Homo sapiens: one gene and its partners. The protein of the gene in region 1 interacts with the protein of each later gene in a pairwise test. Each region holds a gene or a part of one and is shown on either strand. Other genes may lie near its edges.

Region 1 (6,549 bases):
AGCAAGACTCTGTCTTAAAAAAAAAAAAAAGAAAAAAAAATCGCCAGGCATTGTGGCATGCACCTGTATAGTCCCAGCTACTTAGGAGGCTGAGGCAAGAGGATCGTTTAAAAGAGGATGGTTTAAGCCCAGGAGGTTGAGGCTGCAGTGAGCTATGATTTTACCACTGCACTCCAGCCTGAGACCCTGCCTCAAAAAAAAATCAAAAAAACAAACAAAAAAACAAAACAAAACAAAACAAAAGAAATCAAGTGGGCTATAGATCGACTCATGAAAATGATCCTCACGGATATGTCAGTCCCCAGGTAATTTCTATAATTACCCATAAACAGCTGTACACATTGTCTGTGGTGTACTTTAAACTGTATTTTCCCCGCTTTTTGAAAAAAGTGTAATGCAGGGTTGAAACAGAGGTCTTGTCAAAGATTGAGATCAGCTTTACCTACAACATCCTCTCAACCTACCAATCTTGAAGACTTTTCACTTAAAATGACATTGATCTTCACCTGAGGTCGGGAGTTCGAGACCAGCTTGGCCAACATGGAGAAACCCTGTCTCTACTAAAAAATACCAAATTAGCCAGGCATGGTGGCACATGCCTGTAATCCCAGCTACTTGAGAGGCTGAGGCAGGAGAATCGCTTGAACCCGGGAGGTGGAGGTTGCGGTGAGCTGACATTGCACCATTGCACTCCAGCCTGGGCAAAAAGAGCAAAACTCCGTCTCAAACAAACAAACAAAAAAAAGATATTGATCTTGTAAGTGCTCTTTCACAATTCCTTTTATGATAATGTTTTAACTAGGTTTGCAAATTAAATCCAAATTTTAATTTGGATGCGCAAATTAAAATCTCAAATTTCTCAGGTCAATTCCTTGGGGTTTTTTGTTGTTTGTTTGATTGTTTATTTTCGCTTTTGTTTGTTTGTTGAGAGGGAGCCTCGCTCTGTCGCTCAGGCTGGAGTGCAGTGGCATGATCTCAGCTCATTACAACCTCCACCTTCCATGTTCAAGTGATTCTCCCACCTCAGCTTCCCAAGTAGCTGGGACTACAGGCGCCTGCCACCACACCCGGCTAATTTTTGTTTTTTAGTAGAGATGGGGTTTCACCATGTTGGCCAGGCTGGTCTCGAACTCCTGACCTCAGGTGATCTGCCCACCCTGGCCTCCCAAAGTGCTGGGATTACAGGTGTGAGCCACCATGCCCTGCCTCTTTGTTTTAAATGACAAGGATTTCATTTCATATTTAAACTGCTGTAACACAAGGGACAAGGAAAAGTGAAAAGAATTTTGTTTCTCTAGAGAAAAAAAAAGGCTAGGCGGTACATTAAACTTGGATGGCAGCCTGTCATGGAACCTGGGGATTGGTCACATTGGCCAGTACTTTCTCTAACCCAGAGATCAAAACCTGATCTGCCACCACTGCTGGGAATGGAGTCAGTCCTGGTTTCAGCTATAGCTGACACCATCAGCTTCAATCTGAGCCAATCTACTTTCTGCCTTTCTTCTAGTAGACAGCGAGAGTTCAAGCCAGCCTAGTTCTCAACAGCATCATCTGCTAACATTTATCATCTCCCCCACTTCCCTCTCACACAATAAGGTAGGCACTGGGGAAGGTAGCACAGTCCCTGCCTTCAAAGTGCTTACAATCTTGGTGCTTACAATAAAAATGCCGATCAAGTGAATATGTCACTAGAAGGCAGCACATGAGAAATTAATATGAAGATGGCCGGACACAGTGGCTCATGCCTGTAATCTGAGCACTTTGAGAGAAGGTGGGTGGATCACCTGAGGTCAGGAGTTCAAGACCAGCCTGGTCAACATGGTGAAACCCCATCTGTACTAAAAAACAAACAAACAAAGAAAAAATATATACAAAAAATTAGCCAGGCATGGAGGCGGGCGCCTGTAATCCCAGCTACTTGGGAAGCTGAGGCAGGAGAATGGCTTGAACCTGGGAGGCGGGTTACAATGAGCCAAGATTGCGCCACTGCACTCCAGCCTGGGCGACAGAGTGGGACTGCATCTCAAAAAAGAAAGAAAGAAATATGAAGATGAATGTTTTGAGAGTCTGGGGAAAGTGAAGTTCACTATGAGCTGAGCTGGTGGAAATGGCTTCCTGAATGAAGGAAATCCATGGTGCCTTCTCCATTTTGTGGGAGGCACTGGTTTAGAGAGTGGTTAAGGACATAAACTGCAAAGCCAGGCTGCATTGTTTGAACAAGCTCAGCTCTGCCAGTAACGAGCTGTGTGACCAGGGCAGAGTACCTAGCCTCTCTGTGCCTAGGTCGCCTCCTCCCTAAAATTAGGACAATAGTAATTATGTCTCCCTCATAGACTTGTGGGGAGTATAAAATGCCTTAAGCTAAATGAAGCACATGGCATATAATGAAGGCTAATGGGGGCTTCGGACCATTGTTCTTTATGACACGGTTTCTTGAGACCGAGGCATGTACAAGCCAGTGCACAGAATCGTGTCTATGTAATTAGTTAATTCTGTCTGGGAGGAGTGTGTGTGTTTAAGACAGTGCCTGGGATGACTTATAATGTAATCTTTAGGCAAAACGCTTTGTAATTGGTGCAGCTCTGAGAACACACGCATGCATTCCAGGCGGTGCTGCTGGGGCTCGGCGGGGCCGTGTCTGGTCTGCAAGGCGCGCGGGCTCGTGGGGGGTTGGCTGGGGAGCCCACGCTGCCTGGCGACTCGGGCCACCGAATGTGAGACCGAGTCCCTTTATGTCACCAGCGCACACGCTGATTTGAACCCTGCTTCGACGTGTGTGTCATGGCTTAAAAATAGCTGCTAATCTGTCAACCTGTCTTGGGCAGAAACAGCGGCGGCGACAGCAGCAGGAGCGTCATGGCCGTGGCGCTGTCTGCGCCGGCGATCCGCCTTTCGGACTGAGGCCCAGCGCAGCGCTTGCAAAGAGGTAGAGGGGCTGCGGCGGGCCTTCGCCTTTTCAGCTGGCTCTCCACGCTGGGGAGAGGCGCCCAGCTAGGGGCGACGGGGGAGGGAGGGGACCGGGAAGCGGGCACCCGAGCCCAGCGAGCCAGCCTCTCTCTCCCGGGCGCCCTCCCTCCGCGCGCGGGGCCCGGCTGCCAGGCTGGCGAGGACTGGGGCGACAGCCATGGACCTGTTACAAAGGCGACCGCAGGCGGAGGGAGGGAGCGGCGGGCCAGGGCCCCTGGAGCCGACGGATGGGATTGGAGAATGCCCAGGGCTGTATCCCTGGACAGAAAGGGGCTTCTGCATCCCCCGGGAAAAACAGCCCCACGGAGATCCTTCTTAGACCTGGGCTCCTTCACGCTTCCCCCATCCCATTCATCATCTCGTAGACAGCAGACTCTCTAAGAGGAAAGGTTGTATTGCAATACAGTAATGGGGTCTTTAGGCCTGGGTGCAAAGGTAGAAGAAGATGATGGTGATAGTGATGGTGGTGATGGTGGTAGTGATGATGGTGATGGTGGTGGTGATGATGGCTGTAGTGCTATATTTCTGTGCTCCTTCCGGACCCAGCCATTGAAAACTCTCTCTCCCTAAACTCCCTAACATCCAATCTTCCCTCACCAATCCTGGTCCTAAAACCCCTGCTTCTAATGCCTTGTAAGTGCTTGGTTTCTCTTGGCACTGGAGCAAGGGAGAGCTGGGCCCTGTCTAGGGGTGTGAGATGGGGACAGAGCATGGGCAGGGACAAAGATGGCCTCTCACTGCTGGTCATAGAGTTGAAGTCCCCCTGGCAGGAGGCCAGGAAGGGAGTGGAAGGGGATTCTGCAGGCTCCAGGACCTCCTGCTTTCAAACAGGCAGGACCACAGGTGTGAGAGGATGGGGAGGGAGGGGGAAGGGGCCTTGCCATTGTTGCCTCCCTGCCTGAAGGTCCCAGGGCAAGCCTCAAACGCTGGTCCTTCCCAGCTCTGCAGCTCAACAGGTAATCTGAGACACACCTGCTAAGCCCCTCGTTATTGACCTCGTGTTTTGTAGGGTCACTTGACTCCAACAGCCATACGGTTGGTAATTCTAAGCCTCTGAGCCCCTGGACCTGGCAGGATCCCTCATTTTTCCCTTTCCTTCCTGCTTTCTAGGCCCCCACCACCCACCCCTGTCCCCCCTCCCCTCAAGACACACACAGACAAAACACTCCAACCCTGCGTCAATTCCCCCACCATCCACCTCTGTCACCCTCCCCTCAAGACACACACAGACAAAACACTCCAACCCTGCTTAGATTCAGAAATTCTCACATTAGAGCTGAGATCTGATCAGTAATTTCCTAATGCTGATCCAAGGAGGGTGGTTTGCCTGTTGTGCACATAGATTGGTGCCTTCTTCCATAAGCTCATGCATTCAGCAAGTATTTATTTTTTGCAAACTTACTCTTCCTCTTTATTGCTATTCTCCACTCACCCCATCCCACCCCCACCACACCCTTCCCATAGCAGGTTTATCTCTGAGGCAGTGGCAGGTCACGAAGGGGTTAAAGTCTAACTCTGGCACAGAGATGGCAGGCCTGACATGTGTCATGGCCTCAGCTGCTGTTGTCTCCCTGCTAATTCTCTTTGGATGGGTCTAAAGGTACCCCCAACCCCATCCCAGCTCCCTAGGCTCTCTGCCGATAGCCCCAGGCAGATGAGACTCAGATTCCAGCTGGCAAGATCCCCAGCAGTGGGGACAACCACCCAAGTGCCGTGTGTGTGTGTGTGTGTGTGTGTGTGTATGCGTGCTGGCAGTGGGGGTGGGGTGATGAAGCTGAAACCTAGCAGCTGGGCAGCTCCCTCTCCCCGTAAACAAGGACATGTGACTCTCCCACCTCGTTTCGTGGCAGAGCCAAAGAGCTGAGCAAAAGGAGCTGCTGCAGCTTGAAGAAAAAGCCACCCCTGAAGGCTCCTGCCAGAGCCAGGCTTACCTTCTCTCCCTCGAGAATCTTCTCCCGAAGGACCAGCCCAGGGAAGGGAAGCAGCTGCTCTGGACTCACTCAAGTGTGTCTCACACCCCTTCCTCTTCCAGCAGCAGCTACCTGGCAACTGAACCCATCATCACCACAGCCACTCCTGCAGCTGCCACGGTTTCTGCCACCTCTAAGATGTGCCCTGGTAACTGGCTTTGGGCTTCTATGACTTTTATGGCCCGCTTCTCCCGGAGTAGCTCAAGGTCTCCTGTTCGAACTCGAGGGACCCTGGAGGAGATGCCAACCGTTCAACATCCTTTCCTCAATGTCTTCGAGTTGGAGCGGCTCCTCTACACAGGCAAGACAGCCTGTAACCATGCCGACGAGGTCTGGCCAGGCCTCTATCTCGGAGACCAGTATGTATCGGGCAGACTGGGCCCACGGTAGAGCGTGTGTGTGTTTGTGTGTGTAAGAAAGGAGAAGGGTGGCAGACAGGTATGCAGTGGTGTCATTGGTTCCTGGTTGAAGATTGAGGGGATAGGGCACATGGGCCAAGAGTAGAGGCTGCAGGTTTGGGAGAGTTTGGCCAGGATTATTGAAATGCCCAACTCTGGCCAGTCACAGTGTCTCTTGCCTGTGATCCCAGCAGTTTGAAAGGCTGAGGCAGGAGTATCTAGAGTACAGGAGTTCTAGACCAGCCTGAGCAACAAAACCAGACCCCATCTCTACTTATTATTTTAAAATAAAATAAATAAAATAAAAATACCCAAGTCTGGACAGAAAGACTCTGTTCCAGTAATAATATCATTCATGTATCACATATTTATTATTACATGCCAGTGCTACATACCAGGCACAATAGATGACTTCTCTGACCTTCCATCTATTGTGCAATGTCTCTGGGAAAAGGCAGCCACTGGAAGCCAGGAGCAGTAGGTAGGAAGCTGCAGTGGTTTCTCTTGAGACCAAGCAAAGCGGCAGTGCCTACAGAGATTCTGCAATTTGAAGGCTATGGAGAGAAAAACATCAAAGGAAGAGCCATCCCCACTTCTCTCCCTCAAAGTTATACAAGGATTTCTTTTGCTTCTTTGGTTTGTTTTGGTTTTGGTTTCTTTCTTTTATTTTTTTTTGGAGACAGTATCACTCTGTCACCCAGGCTGGAGTGCAGTGGCGCGATCTTGGTTCTCTGCAACCTCCACCTCCCGGGTTCAAGCGATTCTCCTGCCTCAGCCTCCAGAGTAGCTGGGACTACAGGCACACACCGCCTTGCCCGGCTAATTATTTTTTTGTATTTTAGTAGAGACGGGGTTTCACCGTGTTGCCCAGGCTGGTCTTGAGCTCCTGAGCTCAGGCAGTCCACCTGTCTCGGCCTCTCAAAGTGCTAGGATTATAGGTGTGAGCCACCGTGCCCAGCATTGTTGTTGTTTTTGAGACAGGGTCTCACTGTTGCCCAGGCTGGAGTGCAGTAGCCCAATCTCAGCTCACAGCAAACTCCGCCTCCCGGGTTCAAGCAATTCTCCTGCCTCTGCCTCCCAAGTAGCTGGGCTTACAGACGCCCATCACCACACACAGCTGATTTTTGTATTTTTAGTAGAGACGGCGTCTAGCCATGTTGGCCAGGCTGATTTTGAACTCCTGGCCTCAAGTGATCCACCTGCTTCAGCCTCCC
Region 2 (6,085 bases), on another chromosome or scaffold:
CCTCCTCCTCCGCAAGAGACTCAGAAAGAAATTCATGACTCCCGCATTCCTTTCCACTCACAAAACATGCTTTGTGAACAGCCAGAGAAAGACAGCTCGTTACAAGGACAACTGTGGTCACACCCTCTCAGCAAACCGCAGCCACACACCAGGGCCTCCTGCCTGACCCCTGGCCAGCCGGCTTCCCTGATGAGCTCAGAGGACAGGACACCTGGGAGTCTCCGACGAGCAACAGGAAATACGGATGCATTTAATCCCGGCGTACAAACTCACTGAGCACAAAATTATAGCGTTCGTTCCTTCAGTTTATGTTGCTTAGAAATAACAGCTCATTAAATTTGCACCTTATAAAACAGGGTATTAAATCCCAGCCGCCACACACCTGCCTATGGGAGGTGGGGATGCAAGCCGCCAAGCCAGGCACGATCAGGTGCTCTGTTCAGATCCATCTGCAACACCTTTGTTAATTTTGGAGCAGAAAAGCTCCAAACATAAATTATAAATTAAGGTAAATTTATAGTAGCTAAGTTTAATTTCACTTCTTTTTTTGTTGTTGTTTTTTGAGACAGAGTCTCGCTGTGTCGCCCAAGCTGGAGTGCAGTGGCTCAATCTTGACTCACTGCAACCTCCACCTCCCGGGTTCAAGCAATTCTCCTGCCTCAGCCTCCCGAGTCCCTGAGACCACAGGTGCATGCCACCACGCCCGGCTAATTTTTTGTATTTTTAGTACAGACGGGGTTTCACCACGTTAGCCGGGATGGTCTCAATCTTCTGACCTCATGATCCACCCGCCTCAGCCTCCCAAAGTGCTGGGATTACAGGCATGAGCCACTGCGCCTGGCCAATTTCACTTCTTAGGTCCCTAAAATAGGAAAAAGCAGCCACTCTGCGTAGAGGCAGATGACCTGCAGACTACAGAGGCACCTCCGACCATCTCTTTTCCATCCCCCTCCCCTGTCCCAGCAGCCCCCAGATGGCCACACACGCAGGACATCTCCCAATCGCATCACACCCAACCCAAAGGTGGGACAAGCCGTGAGGGCTGCAGCCCCTCCCAGTACCCCCAGCCTGCAGCCCTCACGCCGTCCTCTCTAAGCAGTAAATTATTTCTTCTGAGAAAACCCTACAGCAAGCCCCATGTCTGTTTCAGAAAAAAGGGGAAGCCCTCTGGGTAAAGAAAGGGGAGCACTCCTACCTGCCAGCCACCGCCCCTCAGCAGTGCTGAGAGCCAACTCAGAAATCCTTCAATCCGGCTGAACACAGTGGCTCATGCCTGTAATCCAGCACTTTGGGAGGCTGAGGCGGGCAGATCGCCTGAGGTCAGGAGTTTGACACCAGCCTGGCTAACATGGTGAAACCCCATCTCTACTAAAAATACAAAAAAAAAATTAGCCAGGCATGGTGGCACACACCTGTAATCCCAGCTACTCAGGAGGCTGAGGCAGGAGAATCGCTTGAACGTGGGAGGCAGAGGTTGCAGTGAGCAAAGATCTCACCACTGCACTCAAGCCTGGGTAACAAAGCAAGACTCCATCTCAAAAAAAAAAAAAAAAAAATTCCTTCAATCCCAGGACATTGGGAAAGTGCTCTAACCAACTTCTCTGTGCCTCAGTTTCCTCCTCTAGAAATGGGGAAGATAGTGTTGTCCACCCCAGCGTAGGGTGGCTGGAAAATTAAAGGGGTCTGTGCATGGCAAGCACTGAGGATGGTATCTATAAAGCACAAGGCCGTTTTATAATTGTTACATCATCCTTATCTGTGATGAGGATGAGGAAACTGAGGCACAGAAAGGAAAGCCTTCCCCATGCCACATGGTTTTTCACAGTAGAGCAGGCCTGGGACATGTCCCTGTCCCTGCCCATCACTCCTCAGAAAGCCTCCGTCTCCTGCCACACACCAACCAGGCCCTCGAACGATAGCCTCAAGGTCATCTCACAACCTCAAACCAGCCACCTACATCCTCAAGCAGGACCAGCAGCCTGGACCCTTCAACTGGTGGCCTCAACACCCCCATCAGGGCTCACCTCCCCAAGATATCGACCCACCTGGCGTGCACAAACCGAGGACTGGCACACCAGTGCACCCACATCTACAGCCTCACAGCCACCTGCAATGCTGTAGCCACGGCCCAAGGCTCCTGGGGTAGGGAGGCTTCAAACTCCACGGTCAGAACCCACTGTGCAGCCTCGAGCAACATGGCTGGAGAGAGCCTCCTGCGTGCCGTGCGGCCTGCACTGCTAAGCCCTTGACGTGGATCAGCTCATTAAATCCTTGGAACAACGCCCTGTGGCAGTCAAATACTGGTATTATCCCCCTGCTGAGTCCCAGTCAGAAACCAAGAAAGTGAGATGCAGTAGGAGGCACAGCCTCACTTGCTGCTGGAGGGAGTCAGGTGAGACTTCCCCACACAGGGAGTAGGCGGAACAGCAGCGTGGGAAGGGGGCTGGCACTGGAGCCAGCCGGACCCGGTTCAAATCCAGGCTGTGCCGCTTCCTGGCTCTGTGACCTTGAGCAAGTCCTTTCACTAATCTGAGTCTCAGAGTCTGTATTTGCAAATGAGGGCTTGGCGTATGGTGCTTTGGTGAGGATTAGAAGACATGATGTTTAACCTATGTGTCTCTTGATAATAATATCAACAATGGCTACTGATGACACAAGTTGTGAGCAGTGTGCTAGGGACTGTACATGTTTGAAACTGTGTCTTAAACTCACCGGGCCAGGTACGGTGGCTCACGCCTGTAATCCCAGCACTTTGGGAGGCCGAGGCGGGCAGATCACCTGAGGTCAGGAGTTCGAGACCAGCCGGGTCAACATGGTGAAACCCCATCTCTACTAAAAATACAAAAATTAGCTGGGTGTGGTGGCACGAGCCTGTAATCCCAGCTACCCGGGAAGCTGAGGCAGGAGAATCGCTGGAACCCGGGAGGCAGAGGCTGCAAGGAGCCGAGATCACACCACTGCACTCCAGCCTGGGCAACAAGGGTGAGACTCCATCTCAAAAAAAAAAAAAAAAAAAACAACTTATCAAATCCTCATAACCCAGTGTTTCTTGGCCCCGGCCCTACCGATGTTTTAGGCTAGGTAATTCTTTGCTGGGGACTGTCCTGTGCCCTGCAGGGCGTTTGACAGCATCCCTGGCCTCTACACACCAGATGCCAATAAATCCCCACTAATTGTGACAACCAGAAATATTTCCTAGACATGGCCAGATGTTTCTAGGGGGTCAGAATCACCCCCCATTGAGAACCACAGTCATAACCCAATGAAGTAGGTACACCGAGCACTAAAAGGACTTATCCACGTCAAAGAGCCAGCAATGGTGGCTCTGGGACACAGGCTGGCTGGCTACTACATTGCAAAAGCTGCCCCTTCCCTTGCCTCCCCGACCCATCTCCCCAGGGCCTACCGCCAGCTGCAGGTCACGGCTGCGAAGTACAGCCGAGTTCTTCTCCTCACTGAGCTGTGCCAGGCGCATGGCGATCATGTAGTTCTCATCCTTGAGCCGCAGCAGCTCCAGGCTGCCCGCCTCCCAGTCCTCCCGCAGCCGTTGACAGCGCTCCTGAGCCTGCTGCTGGTCCCGCAGCCGCTGCTCCAGCCCTGCCCGCTCCTCCTCGAGCACCCGGCCCCGGGCCTGCAGTTGCTGCTCCCGCTGCAGCTGGCTCTTGCGAGCTTCCCGCAGCCGTCGCACCTCTGTCATCAAGAATTGGGTCAGGCCCTCAGGCCCCTCCTCATCTGCCAGGACAGAACAGGGGACAGAATAGGCAGCTCAGGCAAGTAAAATCCAGGAGATAACATACTGTGTCAAAAAACTCAAACCATAAAAACACTAGAGGGAAATTCTGGAATATATTTGTAGAATTGGGAGCAGGGGAGGTCTTCCTAAACAACACACAAAATCCAGGAGTTATAAGAGAAAAAAGATGGACAAATCCATATAAAAATGTTTAAACCTTTGAAAAATGAAAGATGTAACAAAGTTAATAAGCAACAGAGTGGGAGAAAATATAACAAGAACTCAGAGCCGTAATATATAAAGAGCTCCTACAAATCAATAAGATCAACAACCAAATAAAAATATGGACAAAAACTATCAATAGGCAAGTCCCAAAATAAAAATAGTTAATAAATACAGGAAAATATGCACCAACCTATCAACAATAATTACAGTAGCTACTAATATTTGTTAACTTCATTCTTTGTGCTAGATATATCTTAATCTTTATGACAACACTGTAAGGTAGGTACTATTATTGTACCCATCTTAAAGACAGAAAAACTGAAGCACAGAGCAGTTATTTACCCAAGGTTTAATAACTAGTAACCTGTGAACTGTATCACTCAATGAAATATAAACTTAAAACAATAACATTATTTTTTACATATCAGAATGGTAAAAACGTTTAAACATGATCCCCAGGATTCAAATGGGCCCTTACACATTCCTGGTAGGAGGTATGTTGATTTAACAGTTAAAATACACAGACTCTTTGAGAAATTCTTCTCAGAACCTCTTCGCCTGAGACACATTTGCACAAAGACGCACATACAAGGATGTTCCCGTATCGTTGTAATAATACAAAACTGGAAACCTAGGTATCCATCAACTGGAAATGGGTTAAATGAATTATGTCCTAACTTCACTAATGAACAGTATGCAGTCACTTAAAACAAGTGTATGTAACAGAGGTGAAAGAATCACTAAAATCAGTTGTTCTAAGAAAAAGCAAAATACACACGTAGGCGTGTGTGCGTGTGTGTATGTGTTTGTGTTTTTTATATAAAAAAATTCAGCTAGGCGCAGTGGCTCACGCCTGTAATCCCAGCACTCTGGGAGGCCGAGGCAGGCGGATCACAAGGTCAGGAAATCAAGACCATCCTGGCCAACATGATGAAACCCCATCTCTATTAAAAATAAAAATACAAAAATTAGCAGGGCGTGGTGGCCCATGCCTGTAATCCCAGCTACTCGGGAGGCTGAGGCAGGAGAATCGCTTGAACCTGGGAGGCGGAGGTTGCAGTGAGCTGAGATCGCGCCACTGCACTCCAGCCTGGTGACAGAGCAAGACACTGTCTCAAAAAAAAAAAAATTCAAAGTCACCTGGAGCCTCTGTATTTTTTTACATAAAAAACTATACATCTGTGTATGTCAGACATATGTCTGAAAACAGTATCACGAAGAAAGAGCCATCTTAAGCATGTGGCTCTGAACTTGGAATAACGGCACTAGCACCCAGCCCCACCCTCAGCCTACCGTGGGGCCCTGGGCAAGCCCCTTCAGCCTCTCCATGCCTCAGTTTCCCTTACTGTTCAACAGGCATAGTGGGAGCGCCTCCCTAACAGGGATGGGGAAAGGAGCCTGTGCACTGGAGTCCGAGGTGCCAGCATCCACCGCAGATCCACTCACCGAGGATCATGGAGCAGCGCTGGGCGGGTTCCTGGCCCGTGAGCAGCGTGAAGTGTTCGGGGTAGTAGAACTCCAGGGCTTCCAGGAAGGCCTCATAGCCCCTCTTGCCACGGCAGCGCAAGATGTCCATCAGGCGCCCTACAGAGTAGTGGGGGGATGTACCCAGGGTCTAGGGGAAGGCCTCCCCAGGTGCCTGGTTGCTTCTGCCCCCACCATGCTCCAGGCCCACGTTCCCCAGATTTTTGAGCCAGTGACACACACAGGGGCCTGTCCCAACACATCAGGGAAGAGAAGAGAGCCATTCTGCCACAGCCAGGGGAGCACATTCCCTCATGACTCCTGGGCTCCCAGAGCTCCCCAACACCCCCCACAGACACAGATGCCGGCCCGCAAATGCAGCCTGCCTTTTCAATGGCACAGAGAAGCCCCCTCTATCCCCAGAAGCAAAGAAAATACTTCTCCCATTGGCCATGCCTGAAATTCCACCATTAAAGACCATTCCATCATGCCTTTTTGAGTTCTGGTTCAAAGGCACACCCTGTGGGAGTGGGGACCCACGTAAAGCTGAGACGGATCTTGACACTTGAAAAAGGACTCCCCCAGGAGTGTATGGTGCACAGAGGAGGGGACAGACAGAACTCGGAGATCAAAGAGCGCAGGAAAGGTGCCAAGTCCACCGGC
Region 3 (5,536 bases), on another chromosome or scaffold:
AGCCGAGGCAGGTGGATCACGAGGTTAGGGGTTCGAGACCAGCCTGGCCAACATGGTGAAACTTCGTTTCTACTAGAAAAAATACAAAAGTTAGCTGGGCGTGGTGGTATGTGCCTGTAAACCCAGCTACTCGGGAGGTTGAGGCAGGAGAATCGCTTGAACCCGGGAGGCGGAGTGGAGGTTGCAGTGAGCCGAGATCAGGCCACTGCACTCCAGCCTGGCAACAGAACAAGACTCCATCAAAAAAAAAAAAAGTTAATGTAATTTAGTTACGTTTCATATATAGTGTATAATATAATATATTCACATTGGCTCAAAATTCTAAAAAGAGTATTAATGAATGAAAAATCTCCCCAACTCTTTCACTTTGGAAAAGAGTTGGGCATTATTTTGTATAGCTAGAGATATTCATATTCTAGACTTCGTCTTAGGTATCTTAGAGAAACTCATACATGTGTACACTTATAAAAGTGTTCATAATAACGCTGTTCTTAATAGCCCCAAACTGGAAACAACCCATTGGCATTAGAATTAAAGTATGAGGCCAGGCGTGGTGGCTCACGCCTGTAATCCCAGCACTTTGGGAGGCTGAGGCAGGCTGATCACTTGAGGTCAGGAATTCAAGACCAGCCTGACCAATGTGGTGAAACCCCATCTCTACTAAAAATACAAAAATTAGCTGGGTGTCATGGTGGGCACCTGTAATCCCAGCTGCTTGGGAGGCTGAGGCACGAGAGTCACTGGAACTTGGGAGGCAGAGGTTGCAGTGAGCTGAGGTCATGCCACTGTACTCCAGCCTGGGTGACAGAGCAATACCCTGTCTCAAAAAAAAAAAAAAAAAAAAAAAAAAGAATTAAAATATGAGATGTTTATAATGAAAAACAGACCATGTCCAGTGATTTAAAAAAATTAACCTGGCTGGCCCAGTGGCTCACACCTGTGATCCCAGCAGTTTGGGAGGCAGAGATGGAAGGATTGCTTGATCCCAGGAGTTTGAGACCAGCCTGAGCAACATAAGGAGACCCCCGTCTCTACAAAAAAATACAAAAATAAAAAAGGCTGGGATTGATGGTACACATTTTTGTCCCAGCTACACAGGAGGCTGAGTTGGGAGGATCACTTGAGTCCAGGAGGGCGAGGCTGCAGTGAACCGTGATCACCATCACTGTACTCCAGCCTGGGTGACAGAGTGAGACCCTATCTCAAAAAATAAAGGCCGGGCACAGTGGCTCATGTCTGTAATCCCAGCACTTGGGAGGCTGAGGAGGGTGGATCATGAGGACGAGATCGAGACCATCCTGGCCAACATGATGAAACCCCATCTCTACTGAAAATACAAAAATTAGCTAGGCGTGGTAGTGCGCGCCTGTAATCCCAGCTACTTGGGAGGCTGAGGCAGGAGAATCACTTGAACCCAGCGGGGTGGAGTTTGCAGTGAGCCGAGATCGCACCACTGCCCTCCAGCGTGGGTGACAAGAGCGAGACTTGGTCTCAAAACAAGCAAACAAACAAAAGAATCTTACAATGTTGTGAAAAAAAAAAAAAATCCAGGCACAAAAGAGTATACATTTTGTGTGCTTCCAGTTTTAATCTGGCTCTGAAACAGGCAAAATGGAATTATATTATCTAGGAACATGTAAGTGGTAAACTACAAAGAACAAGAAAGAAATTATCACAAAAGTCAGGGTAGTGGTTACTCCTTGAGGGGAGGGAGAACATATGGTTGGGAAGGAACTCTTGAGTGCTAGCATTGTTGGATTGTGGTTTTTTTTTTTTTTTCCCACAAAAAAATGTAAGCCAGAAGTTTTCTTACCTTTCTACCTTCTAGCCTCCAGTTCCGTTCCTTGGAGGCAGCCAGTCATATGGGTCTATATGCCTTAACACATACACACACGTGCGTGCACACACACAGACACACACGCTATATATATATATATATATATATATATATATATATATATTTTTTTTTTTCTTTTTTTTTTTTTTTTTTTAATAGAGTCTCACTATGTTGCCCAGACTGGTCACAAACTCCTGAGGTTAAGCAGTCCTCCTGCCTCAGCCTCCCAAAGTGCTGGGATTACAGGCATGAGTCACCATGCCCAGCATACACACACATATTTTTAACACAACTAGTAGAAAAGATAGACTTTTGAAGTAAAATGAAAAAGAAACAACCCATAAAGATATCATCTAAGATCAGGCATGGTGCCACTCACCTGAAATCCCAGTGCTTTGGGAAGCTAAGGCAGGAGGATCGCTTGAGGTTAGATATTTGAGACCAGCCTGGGCAACGTAGCTAGACACCGTCTCTACCAAAGAAATATATATATATATTTTTTGAGATGGAGTTTTGCTCTTATTGCCCAGGCTGGAGTGCAATGGCGCAATCTCGGCTCACCACAACCTCCGCCTGCTGGGTTCAAGCGATTCTTCTGCCTCAGCCTCCCCAGTAGCTGGGATTATAGGCATGTGCCACCACACCCAGCTAATTTTTGTATTTTTAGTAGTGCTGGGTTTATCCACGTTGATCAGGCTGGTCTCGAACTCCCAATCTCAGGTGATCCACCTGCCTTGGTAAAGAATTTTTTTTTTTAATTAAAAAGTAAGCTGGGGGCTGGGCGCAGTGGCTCATGCCTGTAATCCCAGCACTTTGGAAGGCCGAGGCGGGCGGATCACAAGGTCAGGAGATCGAGACCATCCTGGCTAACATGGTGAAACCTCGTCTCTACTAAAAATACAAAAAAATTAGCTGGGCGTAGTGGCAGGCACCTGTAATCCCAGCTACTCGGGAGGCTGAGTCAGGAGAATGGCGTGAACCCGGGAGGCAGAGCTTGAAGTGAGCCGAGATCATGCCACTGCACTCCAGCCTGGGCAACAGAGCAAGACTCCGTCTCAAAAGAAAAAAAAAAAAAGTAAGCTGGGCATGGTGATGCACAGCTATAGTCCTAGCTACTTGGAAGGCTGAGGTGGGAGGATTGCTTGAGCCCAGGAGTTTAGAGGCTGCAGTGAGCTGTGATCATGTCACTGCACTCTAGCCTGGGTGACAGAGCAAGACCCTGTCACTTGAAAATAAAAAATATCAGCTATGATTTCTGCCCACTTATTTTTCACTGGACAAGTGGTTACTATGTATGTGCCCTTAGGCCCATGTGCCACTCACTTAATCTGGCACTTGCTGTGTGTCAGCATGGTGTCAGGCACTTTAGTTTGCTTAGTTCAGTCTTCTAACAACCCAGGAAGGCAGGTACTGTTATTATCCCCATTTTACAGAGAAGGAAGCTGAGGCTGTTGTGCTTCTGGGCTTCCTACGCAGCACACCAATAGTGTTGAAACGCTACCAAGGGTTGTGTTGAGGGTGGTCATCTTGATGCCTATTCCTGGGCTGCTCTAACAGGCCCCTTTATCTCTCCAGGTGGCCCTATGCACCCAGGTAGCCCTGGGCATGGAGCACCTGTCCAACAACCGCTTTGTGCATAAGGACTTGGCTGCGCGTAACTGCCTGGTCAGTGCCCAGAGACAAGTGAAGGTGTCTGCCCTGGGCCTCAGCAAGGATGTGTACAACAGGTAGAAGGGCATGCGTGGGGTGGGGGCTCCCCATTTTTTCCCAGAGGGTGAGGGGCAGAGGACAGATAGTTTGGGGGGTGTGGGAAAGGGTTTAGTGCCTGCTTAGTCCAAAGCTGGAGGGCCTGGGATAGGGAAGAGCTTTCTCATCCTTTTTCCAAGGGTGCAGCAGGCTTCCCACCCAGTGCACACCCTTGGTGGTTGTAAAATGTCTCTAGCGATTAAATAAATAAATAAACCTTTTTTAAAAAATAGGCAAATTTGATAAGGATTTATATATAATCTATTTATATGGCTCTCTCTGTAACTTCCTGAATTCAGTCATTATTATTTTGAAGTCTGAGACTTATGCCTCAGCACCCATGCCAGAGCTTGCTCTAGACAGCCTACGAGGGCTCTGCAGCGCTGCCGGGAACATCACCCTGAGTCCCTCTGGTTCCAGGTCACCCCCATTTGTCTGACTATAGCTGTAGTGAGGATTGGTTTATCACTAATAAAGCTCTTTCCATTTAACAGTTCTTAGTTTTTACATTTTTACAACCAATATAGAAAGTATGTATGACTATTAACTTTTCTGTTAACATTTAGGCAAAGTTTGATTCTTAATGGAAATTTTTTAACCATCAAACCTCTCGTGTGGTTACCTCCAGATTTTGTCTAGTGTACTCCCATGCTCAGCACGCATGTGACCAATTTCTTGATGTCTGTATGTAGAAAGGCTGGGCCCCCGGCTTGGGGATGCGTTCCAGATGGGGAGATGAGGGTGCAGCGCCAGGCCACGCTCCCACCCCACCTCACCCCTGGGTTGCTTCTCTCCTGCAGTGAGTACTACCACTTCCGCCAGGCCTGGGTGCCGCTGCGCTGGATGTCCCCCGAGGCCATCCTGGAGGGTGACTTCTCTACCAAGTCTGATGTCTGGGCCTTCGGTGTGCTGATGTGGGAAGTGTTTACACATGGAGAGATGCCCCATGGTGGGCAGGCAGATGATGAAGTACTGGCAGGTAGGCAGCCTTGCTGCTAGGGGATGATTCCAGATGGGCCCCAGATGGGGCCTACTCAGGGCCCCAGGGCTGGTTCAGCCTACCTCCCTCTCAGGGCTGCTACTGAGCAGGCACACAGATACAACCACTCTGGTTGTTAAAATACTGCAATACTTTGTTTTTCTTTTGAGACGGAGTGTCGCCCTGTCGCCCAGACTGGAGTGCAGTGGCCCGATCTCCGTTCACTGCAACTTCTGCCTCCTGGGTTCAAGCGATTCTCCTGCCTTAGACTCCCTAGTAGCTGGGATTACAGGCACGCACCTCCACTCCCTGGCTAATTTTTGTATTTTTAGTAGAGATGGGGGGGCTTCACCATGTTGGTCAGGCTGGTCTCAAACTCCTGACCTTGTGATCCACCCGCCTCGGCCTCCCAAAGTGCTGGGATTGCAGGCGTGAGCCACCACACCTGGCCGAAAATACTGCAATACTTCTATATTGGTTGGTAAATAGCCTTTGCCCCCAGTGCCCACTCCAGCCACTCTGACGCCTGTCCGCCAGCCCACTTCAGCTCCTATGCATGGACCCCGTCCTACCAGCCAGAGTGAGTGGGGCCAGGGGAGTCATCTTTTTCCGTTGCGGGTACCCACCTGCCGCTGGCCAGCATTGCCCCAGAGGCATCCTTGGGTGGCTGCTTGTATAAACTGCAAGGTCCACAAAGTGTTGAACAAGTTGTTGAATGTTTTGGCCAACACTGCACCTGCTGTCTTCCCTACAGATTTGCAGGCTGGGAAGGCTAGACTTCCTCAGCCCGAGGGCTGCCCTTCCAAACTCTATCGGCTGATGCAGCGCTGCTGGGCCCTCAGCCCCAAGGACCGGCCCTCCTTCAGTGAGATTGCCAGCGCCCTGGGAGACAGCACCGTGGACAGCAAGCCGTGAGGAGGGAGCCCGCTCAGGATGGCCTGGGCAGGGGAGGACATCTCTAGAGGGAAGCTCAC
Region 4 (6,085 bases), on another chromosome or scaffold:
ACCTTTCATAAATAGATTTTACAAATTTTAATAACTGACAGATTACTACTTAATACTCAGTAATACTTAATACTTAGTAACTTCTGCATTTACGTGTATGAAAATTCCAGTAGAGCTAATAAGGATGGGGACTTTTATAACTCAGGAATAGACAATTAGGTTATTGGTCAAGGATAAATTGGTCAAGGATAAATTCCCCATCACTGGGTCAGCTGTTTAGACCTGGAGTTCTTACCCTCCTGAGAACAAACCTGTTGCAGCAATTCACACTTACTGTGTAGGCATTTTTAATAATTTGAGAAAGTTTATTCTTATTTCTGCATTTAGTAAGACTATCATTAAGCATATCTGAAAACCAAAAGTTTACCATGTCTATAGATATTTGTAAAAGAACTTATCACAGTGTATCTGAAAAACAGCCCAAATTAGAGCCAGGTTACGTGTCCAATAAGCATTTTTCAAACTCTCCCTCTGGGTGTGTGCGCACACACCACAAGGCTCTATTACACACGCATCCAAGCCTTGGCCTCACAAAATGCCACAATTTTGCTGTTTTTGTGAAATGCCTATATAAAATACAGTATTTGAATGAGACTATTTTAAGTCCTATCAGTGCTTTAAGTCTGAAGAGCAGGCAGTGTTTTGGTAATCCGACTCTTTTCTGCGAAGTTACAGTGCTGACAACACAGCCAGAAGAGCTGCTGAGACTTCCCAAAAGCTGCCCCCACAAGACTGGAGGAGTGTTGTGCATCTGTGACCACAAACAAGCAATGAAGAATGACAAGAAGCTTATGAGTCATGGTCAGAATCTAAGAAACAGAAACATCTTGTAGCAGCATTAAATTACAAACACAGGAAGAGCTGATCCATGGGCCTTTCACACAGGCTCTATAAGAGCCAAACACCATCTTTTTCACATCAGAATTGTAATCAGAGGTGTAGCAGTCCTTGGTCATTGTCATTGCTACTTCTAACACAGCTAGCTAGCCTGTCCCTTTATGAGTAAGTTGATAAGATTCAAATTAAAGTGAGTACAAGCCCTACCTGCTCCTAACAGGTAGGATGAGCCACTGCTTTCGCCTCTACTTGGCTGTGGGGTGTGCTGCAGGCTGGTGGCAGGTGGGATTCACAGCAGCAAAGCCTCTGCTGTCAGCAATTCTGGGACTCCAACAGCCCCCTTTCTTCATACTGTTCTCATCAGGGGTAGTGGCTGCTCAGTACCGAACACGTGAGGATGATGTGGTGGGCCCGGGGGACAAATGTGTCTTGTGAGCCCTCTTCCCTGATACCACCATCCACATAGTAAAGATGGCATGGAATCTCTCCATTGTGCTAAATCTAGGAATCATCTTAATCATGATGAAAACCAAATGTCTTCCTAAGGAAAGGTTGCATGATTTAAAAAAAATCATTCTCAAGATCTCGAATGCTGAGCCCAGGCCCATCCTCGGGGCCCCTCTTCCCCTCCAGCCCTGGAGGGGCATTGACACTACCCCCAGGCCCCCCCCGCAGTCTCTCATTCTGAATAAGGACAGGTCATCAGGGCCAGCATTTTTCCTACTGCCTTTTTTGTGTGTGTGCTTCATGTTTAAATTTTTTTGCCTTGTTTGGCGGCAACTAGAAAAATCCAACAGTTCAGGTCCAATTTCATACACCAGGTAGTAAGTGTTGGACCCACACATGTGAACACAGAATGTTGGTGGTCACTGATGGACACAGACCAACACTGGGTGCTGCTGGGCACTGAAGAGAAAGGAATGCTTAACCACTAAGACTCAGAGCTCTTACCCGGTGTGGCATGTCTGCTAGGAGGGAAAATCACCGGCTATCAGAAGTAAAACCACCTTGGAAGTTAAAACAAACTACCAAAAACGAGTCTGCCACCTGGGAACTGAACACGGCTCGGCCAATGTGACGTTCACAAAGAAAGGGCCGGTAGACTTTCCATTCTCAGCATGTTTCTTCCCCTTGTGAGTCCATTACCTTTCACAAAGAAATGTTAACTATCAAACGTGTCCATTAATTTTGCCGCTGAGGGTGAAAGCATCCAGTTAGCATATACACTATCATTTGGATATCTTGGAAACCCAGTGTTAGTGCCATCAGCTCTCGTGAGTGGTACAGGACTCTCTCCAGGCCAGTTCGGGTCTGACATGCCTAAAAATGAAAACAGATCATTTGTTCTGCACTGAAGAACCAAAACTTCAAGTGCAGACAGTAAGGCCTTGGCAAAACTCCCTTTGATGTTCAAACCAAACTCGTGGTTTCTGTGCCAATTATATTAATGGTTTTGTGTTCCAGGTTTCCAAAAACACTGTTATAGTTAGGGGAAATATCATGTGCTCTCTTGGTAAATGTAACTTAACAGACACTACCAATTTTGACTTTTATGAACTTGAGACTCTCTAATCTGATGTATATTTGTCGAACTGCTTAACTCTTTTTCTAAGGCAGTGTAGGGCAACAGCACACTGCTGCACTCAATGGCTTACTGCAGCGGAAACGTTCTATAAAACATTCTCTAACGTAAAGGAGGCACTCGTCTGTTGTCTGAGCCTACAACGGAGAAGAGGACCTTCCAAATCGAGGGTGCACACGGGCCAGCCTCATAGCATCGTCAGCACAAATGGAGTGTGGCACTAGACACAAAGCCAGTGAGGAGTCAGTGAGTCAGGAGGCATGCAAAAGGAACCGTCTCAGCTTGAAAAAAATGCTTGAAACTCCAAGATTTCAAACAATCAATGATGAAGTTAGGAAACAGAAAAAATTTCTAGTATTTAATCAAAGACAAAAGAAGGAGTTTTGGCAAGAACCATATTTACTGTCCATTGTAAGACCACAGCACCACAGACCATGTTCTTTCAAAAAGCAACTGCTCCAGCTTTAGCACTGACTTCATAAGTGACAACCGTCCTGAAGGTGGGTAAGGGAAAGGATGTGAAAACAGCAGTGGGGGTGCGTCCTCCCAGGGCCAGCCAGCTCCTGCAACCTCGCTACCCCTGATGGAGGACATGTGGCTGGGACTGGGGCTGAGGCTTGGCCAGTGGCTGCTCGCCAGTGCCGGGTGGCCTCTGAGAGGCACCTGCCTGCCCAGGAGGGGTCTGGGGGAACCTGGCTGTGCTCCCAGTGCAGGCTGAGTGGTGCTGGTGGCTCCTTTCTCAACTGAATACCTCCCCAGATTTGTATATTTATCCACTTAGTTAAAGTAGAAGTACTATGACTTGATTCCCACCCCAGAAGCGCCTTATTCAACCTGTTCTTGGTCTCCCCTGAGAGTTCCGCCCTGATCTGTTTTTTCCTCTACCATCCTAAGTTGCTGGGCAATGTGGTAATTACACTTATTTTCACATCCTTTTAGAAAAACATAGTTGCAATAATGCCTAAATGTAAACTGGATGCAAAGTCAGACATTTACAAATAAAAAGGTTCAGAGCAGACTTTGGTTTTGTTCAGACCAGAAACATTTTTAAAAAGCATCACAGAGAGGAAGGATAGTGCAAAGGGGACAGCGGTGCTAGAATCTAGTAAATGCATGGGAAATTCTACCATAGAGTTTGTTTTCAATCCATGTGGAAGGGAGGGCTCGAGGGAGGGGGGCATTATTACAGTCCACCAGCGGTGTCTCCTCCTCTGAGAGGCCGTCGTCATAAATCAGGGAGTCAGATGGAGTGGACGCCGCAAGGTCCAAGTAGTCCTGGAAGACAGAGATGGCCGGTCACTCCAAGCCATGTGCCACAACTAGATACAACTCAGTATACAACAAGCCATCCTCAGGGCAGAGGCTCTGGCTGTGTCTCCACCTCGCACCAATCTCCTGACCTCTCCAAGAGACCAGGGCCAGGCTGCATAGAGCTCCCAGGACTCCTGGCTGGCCTGGTCCTGCTCTGAGGTCCCCATCACTCCCCTGGGTGTTGTCTATTCTGTCTCTTCCCCTGGAAAGTCACCTCCCTGGGGAAAGAAATGTGCTCCCTCAGCGTCTTATCTCCAGGGCCTGGAGGGCAGCCTTGGGGGACGCCTCATCTAGCTGCCCCTGGCCCAACCCGGAGATGGGCAGCACGGAACCAGCCCGCTGACAAACCCTTGGGCTCTGGGGGAGCCCACTGCAGCCACATGCCAGGACGCAGCCCCAGCCTGCAGGATGTTTTCCAGCTTTCCCCAAGGACCCCTGCCATCTAGAACGTCACGTCAGGGCTGAGTTCTGAAATCTGACAGCGCTGTCAGGGTGCACAGGACCCTGCTACAGGCACGGGCTCCCCAGCACGAGGGGCCACTGGCGTCTGCTCCTTTCAATGCCCAGCTTGAATGTGCACAGAGGGGCCCAGCGTTTTCCCGGCTGTTTCTCAGCACTGTTCTAGGAAGGCCAGCACCAGTGATCGCTTCTGTTTTGAACAACGCTGCATTCTCAGGACTTGAAGTTTTCATCCAAGCGAGACAGTGATGTGAAGTTTTCCTATGGGGTCCTAGGTCCTGCATCCCGCTATCCAAGTCGGAAGAAGTGACAACTCAGTAAATGTGCCAATGTTAAGACAAGGCCTGTGTGTAAACCCCGTGAGGGCAGGGCTGTGCTGGTCTTGTTTATCTGCATTCCCAGCCTCTGAGACATAGTATGGGTCCTAGCAGCTGCCTGATGAATATTGGTTGAAAATGTGTAGACCTCACAAACTGTACTTCCAGGCACACAGGCTGACTCTGGCCACCCCCCGATATGCTTTGTTTGGCCTGCGTTCGGCTCTGGGAAATTTAAATGAATTGTTAACAATAAAAACTGGGAGACAACATAAACCTCATAAAATTCAGAAGACCCAGCCCATTCCTGGCTCCTTTTTCTGCAGGCCACAGGTACTCCAGCAAGGAACCCTTTGGAGGGGGCTGGCTGTTTGCCACAGTCTCCACTGCTCCTTACTCACTGCCCTCCTCCAGCCGGACCCCCCTCTGGGCATCTGAATTTTGGGCACTTGCTTTAACTCAACTTTCTCATTTTCCATTATGGAAAACTATTTCTTTTTGGCTTTGGAATATTTTCCTCCCATGCCTGTCTGTAGAGAGCTTTTCCTAAATGTCAAGAATCTTGGTTTCTTCATGACTTGAAAAGAAGCCCAAGCGGCCTGGCCTGAGAAGGGTTCAATCTGCTGTCTGCATGCAGGGGAGAGCATGACTCTCTCTCTCTGCACAATCCCACTGTGGCCCCACACTGGGAACTCTGAGGGCTAAAACTACTGCCCTGGGGTGAGGCTGGAGTCTCCCCAAGCCACTTTCAGCTTGTGGGAATTGGACCCAGGCACTCACTCTCCTCTTAACCATCATCTTCTCCAGGTCTTTGCTGATGTCCGCAAACACCGGCCTTTTGTCCGGCTCCTGCTTCCAGCATTGCAGCATCAGGCGGTACCTGGTGGGAAGAGCAGACAGGCCAATATGATCCAAGCAGGGCCAGGTCTCAGAAGGACAGCCCACCACAGCCATCGCACCCTGCCCTGTACCCTGGGCCCAGTGTGCTCTGTCTCCAACTCCAAAGCTATTTCTGCATCGCTGACATCTCTGAGCCTCGTGGGACTGGGGCATGGCCTGTTGCAGGATCCCAGCCCGTGGGCCACTGTGCTCAGGTCTCTCAGAGCTGTGGTCCAGAATCCTACAAGCTTCCCTTCCCTCCAAGGGAGATTCATTTTTACTTCCCTTGCAAAGACACTGGTAAACAGCTCACTGGATACTATGCTTGCTCTGGCAGCTAAGTGAGAAGTGCCAGTCCTTAAAACTCTCAAGAAGAATGAATTGATTGAGGGCTTTTAGGTGTGGAGACAGACAAACAAGAACCTTTGGCAATCACACGTCTGTCCTGCACCGTCCTTGCTTGCCTGGGTGCCCAGGCAGACCACAGCGCTCCAGCTGGCCACCAGCTGGGGGCCCAGGGAGGTGGTACCTGGCTTCTCGGCCCAGCATGCCCCCTCCACGCCCCAGCAGTGTGCACACTCTGTGGAATGCATGTACCATGCATCTCTGCCTCTGGGCAGCCCTTTCTCATCTGTTCTCAGCCTGGTTTCTAAGACCATCTCCCCTGAGAGTGTAAAGGTTTCAACCTCTCAGGTTGCAG
Region 5 (6,085 bases), on another chromosome or scaffold:
GAGAGAGGAACACCATCATGCGAGAGGCACCTTCAGCTCGGCAGCGTGCTGCTCCCGACACTGCTTGAGGGCTTCCTCTTGTTCCTGCTGCTGCTGCTGCAGGGATTCCTACAAGACAAGTCCCAGGTCTGGCCACAGCCCCCCAGAAGGTATCATGCCCAGTTAGGGGTATGAGGGACTGCAATGGGGGCCCAGAGGTATGCAGAAATGACCCTCCTGCAGGGAACCCCACACGCCCTTAGGCAATATGCTGAAGTGTCACATCTAAAGTTGCACCATTCGCATGGTTGACTTAGATTTGCATTTACATTTTATTTTATTTAACAAAACATAGCGCTTACTACATGCCAAGAATGTTCTAAGGGTTTTACATATATTAACTCATTTTCTATAATCCTCCCGTAATACCTAGATGGTAGATATTATTGTTACCCCCTTTTTACCATTGATGAAAACAGGCCACAGAGAGGTCAGATAACTTGCCCAAGGTCACACAGCTAGGAAATGGCCCAGCCAGGATTCAAACCTAGACAAACAACTGGCTCCAGCCTGTGCTCTTCACTGCTACATGACAATGCCTTTCAGTGTATTATGAGATTTCCAGAAAATGGCAACAAAGGTTCTTTTTCCGAGACAGAGTCTCACTCCGTCACCCAGGCTGGAGTACAGTACACGATATCAGCTCACTGCGACCTCTGCCTCCTGGGTTCAAGTGATTCTTCTGCCTCAGCCTCCTGAGTAGCTGGAATTACAGGCGCCAGCCACCATGCCCGGCTAATTTTTGTATTTTTAGTAGAGACAGGGTTTCACCATGTTGGCCAGGCTGGTCTTGAACTCCTGACCTCAAGTGATCCGCCCACCTCGGCCTTCCAAAGTGCTGAGATTACAGGCGTGAGCCACCGCACCCAGCAGGTTCTTGTTCAATAACATCAGTGTATTGCATTAATTTCCTGACAGAAGTACAGTTTCAGGAGAAAGAGGTGCCTTTCCAAATTTGCACAAAGGCAGGGCAGCCTTAACACGTGACAGTCTGTCCTATCTGATGGCCATCCCCTGATCCACTCCAGAGGGCTGCTATTGAGCCAGGGGACTGTGGGGATATCCCTAAGTCCAGAAAATCTCGGGAAGTTCCAGGGCCTGACCACTCCTGCTTCTGTGGTTTGACATGAGGGCCCCAATCAGCCTCTGTTCCTCACCAGGCATCACCAACTCACCTCGGCTTCCTTCAAGCGCCGTTCAAACCAGCCCTTGGCTCCATCCATGGAATGTACCTGAGCTTGAAGTTCTTCCACTGTCTGCTGGAGAGTCTCCAGCTCCCGTGTCCGGGCCTGGGATGGGGCAGACTGTCATGGGCCAGGAAGGCAGAGGAGCGGGCACCTGATGCATGCCACCCACTGGCCTATCAGCAACGCTGTGGTTCCCAGGTTTTAGAGGAAGAAGGGCATCATCATCTACCCACCCACCTTCTCCTCCCGGATCTGCCCACGGAGCTCCTCCTCCTGACGCTTCTTGTCTTCATGCAGCTCTCGGAGCTCACGCTCATAGCGGGCACGCACCCCCAGCACCTCCTTCTCATGCCGTAGACGAACTGCTCCCAGCTCTTCCTTGTGCTGGGACTTCTCTTGCAGCGTTTCCATTGCTAGCTCATCCAGCATGGCCTTCCGCTTCTCCGCACTCTGGGGGCCAGGACGATGGCAGTCAACTTCCTTCCACAACATCGAAAAAAGGCCTCCAACCCTCTTCCCATGCCCAAGGAACTAGCCAAACTCCACTCCCTCCCATCCCCACTGAACTGGCTAAGGCACTCACCCATCCTTATAGAACTGGTCACTTTCTTTCTTTCCCCTCCCACTCTCATGGATTTGGCCAAGAAACTGGTCAACCAGAAACCAGTCAATTTTCCTTTCCCTCCTATCCCCACATGTTTGGTTATATCACCTCCTCCCATCCCCATGGACTGAGCCAATTCCTACCCCCCATCCTCTCCCTTCAACCCTCATGTTCCCCTACCTTCCGAGCCTCCTGTAATTCCTGGGTCAACTGCTCCTTCTCCTGCCCTATTTCTTGAAGTTGTTCCAGCAGTCGACTATTGGCCCGTAATGACTCCTAATGCAGACACCAAAGGGAAAGAGTTTGATAAAGAGCATCCAGTAGGTGCTAGTCACCCAGGACCATCTGGTAGACCATCTCCCTTCTCCCTGGTAAAGTTGGTATTGTGATCTCAATTTCTGGATAGGAAATATAGCAGAGACTGCTAGTTGCTCCCCAGTATTCATTCTTCCTTACTTCCCTAGCAATAAAATTTATCATCGGGCATACAGCTGTCTAGCAGATGTTTCCCCTCCTCCCTTATGGTTAGGTGTGGCCATGTGATTTATTTCTGTATGTGGAAGTGGTGAGTGTAATTTAGGTTATGCTCTTAAAGGAAAGGGGCACACTCTTCCCTGCCCCTTTCCTCCTTCCTTCCAGATAGAATACAAACATGATGGTCGGGGAGTTTCAGCAACCGTCTTGGATGCCAAGATAAAAGTCTTGTGTTGAAGGTGGAGGAACAGCAATGGAGAAAGAACCTGGGTCACAGATGACTGGAAAGCCATCATTCCATCCCTGAATAACCTACCTGGACTTTTAATGAGAGGGAACTAAATTTGTATCTTATTTAATCTACTATTATTCTGGTTTCTATTATGGAATCAGAATGGATATTGCTTGGGAGGCTGAGCCGGGTAGATCTCCTGAGGTCAGGAGTTTGAGAAGCCTGACCAACATGGTAAAACCCCGTCTCTACTAAAAATACAAAATTAGCTGGGCGTGGTGCCAGGCGCCTGTAATCCCAGCTACTCCGGAGGCTGAGGCAGGAGAATCGCTTGAACCCAGGAGGCGGAGGTTGCAGTGAGCTGAGATCGCGCTACTGCACTCCAGCCTGGGCAACAGAGTGAGACTCCATCTCAAAAAAAAAAAAAAAAAAAAAAAAGGAGCCGGGCGTGGTGGCTCACGCCTGTAATACCAGCACTTCGGGAGGCCGAGGCGGGCAGATCACGAGGTCAGGAGATCGAAACCATCCTGGTTAACACGGTGAAACCCCGTCTCTACTAAAAATACAAAAAATTAGCTGGGCATGGTGGCAGGCGCCTATAGTCCCAGCTACTCGGGAGGCTGAGGCAGGAGAATGGCGAGAACACGGGAGGCGGAGCTTGCAGTGAGCCGAGATCACGCCACTGCACTCCAGACTAGGTGACAGAGCAAGACTCCATCTCAAAAAAAAATTAAATTAAATTAAAATTTAAAAAATGAAAAAGAATTGATATCCTAACTAACTGAAGAGGCTCAGTTTCAGAGAAGTGAAATGACTTGTCCCAGAACACACAGGTGCTAATAAGTTAGGGAGCCAGACTGGAACCTAGGTCCTCCTGACTCCAGTCTTCCCACTCCACCTTACTGGGGACTTCACTGGGCCATTACTAGGGAACTAGGAAGAGACAGGCCAGAGCCAAAGGTGTTACCTGGAGCTGGGAGTTGAGGTCATCTTTCTGTCCCATAAGGTCCTCGTACTCAGCCTGCTGCTGCTGCAACTCAGCTGCCAGCCCAGTGGTCTGTTCCCGGAGCATATTCAGTTCTTGGGTCTTTGCTGTTTGGATCTGGAGAAAGTAGTGGTGATGAGAAGTAGAGTGAAAGGGACCCCAGGGGCCAGGGACAGGGTATGAGCCCCCTAGTTCCAGGGAAACAGGGAGGGAGGTGGGAAGAGAACCAGGAAGAGAGAGGAAATTTCAAACAGAAAAACAATGAAGAGAATGGGTAAATGTGGTATGTTCATACAATGGAATACCACACAACAGTAAGAGAACAGATCTGTGCTGCCACGTGGATAAACTTACATAGTGCTGCCAGAAAGAAGTCAGAGACAAAGAGCAGCTGATTCCATTTATATGAAGTTAAAGAACAAGCGAAATGAATCTTATGTTGCTAGAGATCAGAATAATGGTTACTTCTGGGGGAGTACTGACTTTGAAGGGGTAAAGGGGACCTTCTGGGGTACTAAAAGTGCTTTATACTTTGATCTGGGTGGTGGCTATGGTGGCGGGGAGAGAGAGAGAAAAAAAAGAGAGAGACGAAGAGAGGATTCACTGAGTGTACACTTAAGATTAGTACATTTCATGCACTTTACTAGAGAGAAACTAGAAACAAAGAAAAGCAGAAGCCGGGCGCGGTGGCTCATGCCTGTAATCCCAGCACTCTGGGAGGCCGAGGCGGGTGGATCATGAGGTCAGGAGTTCGAGACCAGCCTGGCCAAGATGGTGAAACCCCGTCTCTACTAAAAATACAAAAATTAGCTGGGCATGGTGGCACACGGCTGTAGTCCCAGCTATTTGGGAGGGCTGAGGCAGGAGAATCGCTTGAACCTGGGAGGCGGAGGTTGCAGTGAGCCGAGATCGTGCCATAGCACTCCAGCCTGGACAACAAGACCGAAACTCCGTCTACAAAAAAAAAAAAAAGCAGAGATAGGCCAAGCACAGTGGCTCACACCTATAATCCCAGCACTTTGGAAGGCCGAGGTGGGAAGATAGCTTGAGGCCAGAAGTTTAAGCCAGTCTGGGTAACATAGTGAGACCCTGTCTCTACAAAATAATTTTGTTTTCTCTTTTTTGAGATGGAGTCTCACTCTGTCACCCAGGCTGGGGTGCAGTGGCACAATCTCGGCTCACTATAACCTCCACCTCCCAGGTTCAAGCAATTCTCCTGCCTCAGCCTCCCGAGTAGCTGGGATTACAGGTGTGCGCCACCATGCCCAGCTATTTTTTTTTGTATTTTTAGTAGAGACGGGGTTTCACCATATTGGCCAGGCTGGTCTCGAACTCCGAACCCCAGGTGATCCGCCCGTCTCAGCCTTCCAAAGTGCTGGGATTATAGGCGTGAGCCACTGCGCCTGGCCTAATTTTTGTATTTTTAGTAGAGACAAGGTTTTGCCATGTTGGCTAGGCTGGTCTCAAACTCCTGATGTCAGGTGATCCGCCCACCTCTGCCTCCCAAAGTGCTGGGATTACAGGTGTGAGCCATCATGCCCGGCCAATAAGTTTTTTTTCGTTTTGTTTTTTGTTTTTTTGAGACAGAGTTTCACTCTTGTTGCCCAGGCTTGAGTGCAATGGCACGATCTCGGCTCACCGCACACTCCACCTCCTGGGCTCAAGCAATTCTCCCACCTCAGCCTCCCGAGTAGCTTGGATTACAGGTGCCCACCACCACACCCAGCTAATTTTGTATTTTTAGTAGAGACGGGGTTTCTCTATGTTGGTCAGGCTGGTCTCGAACTCCTGACCTCAGGTGATCCGCCCTCCTCGGCCTCCCAAAGTGCTAGGATTACAGAATTGAGCCACCATGCCCGGCTTTTTTTTTTTTTTTTTTTTTAGACGGAGTCTCGCTCTGTTGCCCAGGCTGGAGTGCAATGGCACGATCTCGGCTTACTGCAACCTCCGCCTCCTGGGTTCAAGAGATTCTCCTGTCTCAGCCTCCCGAGTAGCTGGGATTACAGGCACACACCGCCACACCCAGCTAATTTTTTGTATTTTAGTAGAGATGGGGTTTCACCGTGTTGCCCAGGCTGGTCTTGAACTGAGCTCAGGCCATCCACACATCTTTGGCCTCCCAAAGTGCTAGGATTACAGGCATGAGCCACCACGCCCTTTTTTTTTTTTTTTTTTTTTTGAGACAGAGTATTGCTCTGTCGCCCAGGCTGGAGTACAGTGGTGCGATCTCGGCTCACTGAAACCTCTGCCTCCTGGGTCCTGGTTCAAGCAATTCTCCTGCCTCAGCCTCCCCAATAAAATTTTTAAAAGTTAAAAAAAAAAAAAAGTAGGGATGGATGGCCAGAGAGAAGAGGGCTGGACGCCAACAGAAAGGAGCAACAGAAACAAAGACAGGAGAACAGCATGGGGTCCAGACCACCCTACCCTGATGTGGACCAGAAGCAGATGGAGATGGGGGAACTGGAGAGGGATCAGCAAGGGCCCCCAGGTGTTCTTTACCTGCTCCAGGGCAGCCAGGCTAGTCCTCAAGGCATTGTTCTCAGCCAAAAGCCCTTCCACTTGTT

What was found.
Region 2: the proteins of DUSP26 (region 1) and CARD10 interact in binary tests that used the Homo sapiens proteins (3 or more experiments, as listed by UniProt).
Region 3: the proteins of DUSP26 (region 1) and PTK7 interact in a two-hybrid assay, tested with the Homo sapiens proteins (one study listed by BioGRID and IntAct).
Region 4: the proteins of DUSP26 (region 1) and RET interact in a two-hybrid assay, tested with the Homo sapiens proteins (one study listed by BioGRID and IntAct).
Region 5: the proteins of DUSP26 (region 1) and GRIPAP1 interact in binary tests that used the Homo sapiens proteins (3 or more experiments, as listed by UniProt).

What each region holds. Positions count from the first base shown.
Region 1 is NC_000008.11:33,596,042-33,602,590, reverse strand, and holds the start of DUSP26 (dual specificity protein phosphatase 26), read left to right. Parts: upstream 1-2,567; 5' UTR 2,568-2,926; intron 2,927-4,831; exon of another isoform or gene 4,832-4,999; 5' UTR 5,000-5,075; coding exon 5,076-5,296; intron 5,297-6,549. UniProt on the Homo sapiens protein: Inactivates MAPK1 and MAPK3 which leads to dephosphorylation of heat shock factor protein 4 and a reduction in its DNA-binding activity. Inhibits MAP kinase p38 by dephosphorylating it and inhibits p38-mediated apoptosis in anaplastic thyroid cancer cells.
Region 2 is NC_000022.11:37,512,567-37,518,651, forward strand, and holds part of CARD10 (caspase recruitment domain-containing protein 10), read right to left. Parts: intron 5,543-6,085; coding exon 5,405-5,542; intron 3,733-5,404; coding exon 3,407-3,732; intron 1-3,406. UniProt on the Homo sapiens protein: Scaffold protein that plays an important role in mediating the activation of NF-kappa-B via BCL10 or EGFR.
Region 3 is NC_000006.12:43,155,405-43,160,940, forward strand, and holds part of PTK7 (inactive tyrosine-protein kinase 7 isoform a precursor), read left to right. Parts: intron 1-3,412; coding exon 3,413-3,564; intron 3,565-4,383; coding exon 4,384-4,562; intron 4,563-5,316; coding exon 5,317-5,477; 3' UTR 5,478-5,536. UniProt on the Homo sapiens protein: Inactive tyrosine kinase involved in Wnt signaling pathway. Component of both the non-canonical (also known as the Wnt/planar cell polarity signaling) and the canonical Wnt signaling pathway.
Region 4 is NC_000010.11:43,124,184-43,130,268, reverse strand, and holds part of RET (proto-oncogene tyrosine-protein kinase receptor Ret isoform a precursor), read right to left. Parts: intron 5,387-6,085; coding exon 5,287-5,386; intron 3,695-5,286; coding exon 3,547-3,694; coding exon of another isoform or gene 3,515-3,546; exon of another isoform or gene 2,158-3,514; coding exon 2,000-2,157; 3' UTR 752-1,999; coding exon of another isoform or gene 618-751; 3' UTR 1-617. UniProt on the Homo sapiens protein: Receptor tyrosine-protein kinase involved in numerous cellular mechanisms including cell proliferation, neuronal navigation, cell migration, and cell differentiation in response to glia cell line-derived growth family factors (GDNF, NRTN, ARTN, PSPN and GDF15).
Region 5 is NC_000023.11:48,981,765-48,987,849, forward strand, and holds part of GRIPAP1 (GRIP1-associated protein 1), read right to left. Parts: coding exon 6,021-6,085; intron 3,639-6,020; coding exon 3,504-3,638; intron 2,107-3,503; coding exon 2,011-2,106; intron 1,677-2,010; coding exon 1,464-1,676; intron 1,329-1,463; coding exon 1,215-1,328; intron 109-1,214; coding exon 31-108; intron 1-30. UniProt on the Homo sapiens protein: Regulates the endosomal recycling back to the neuronal plasma membrane, possibly by connecting early and late recycling endosomal domains and promoting segregation of recycling endosomes from early endosomal membranes.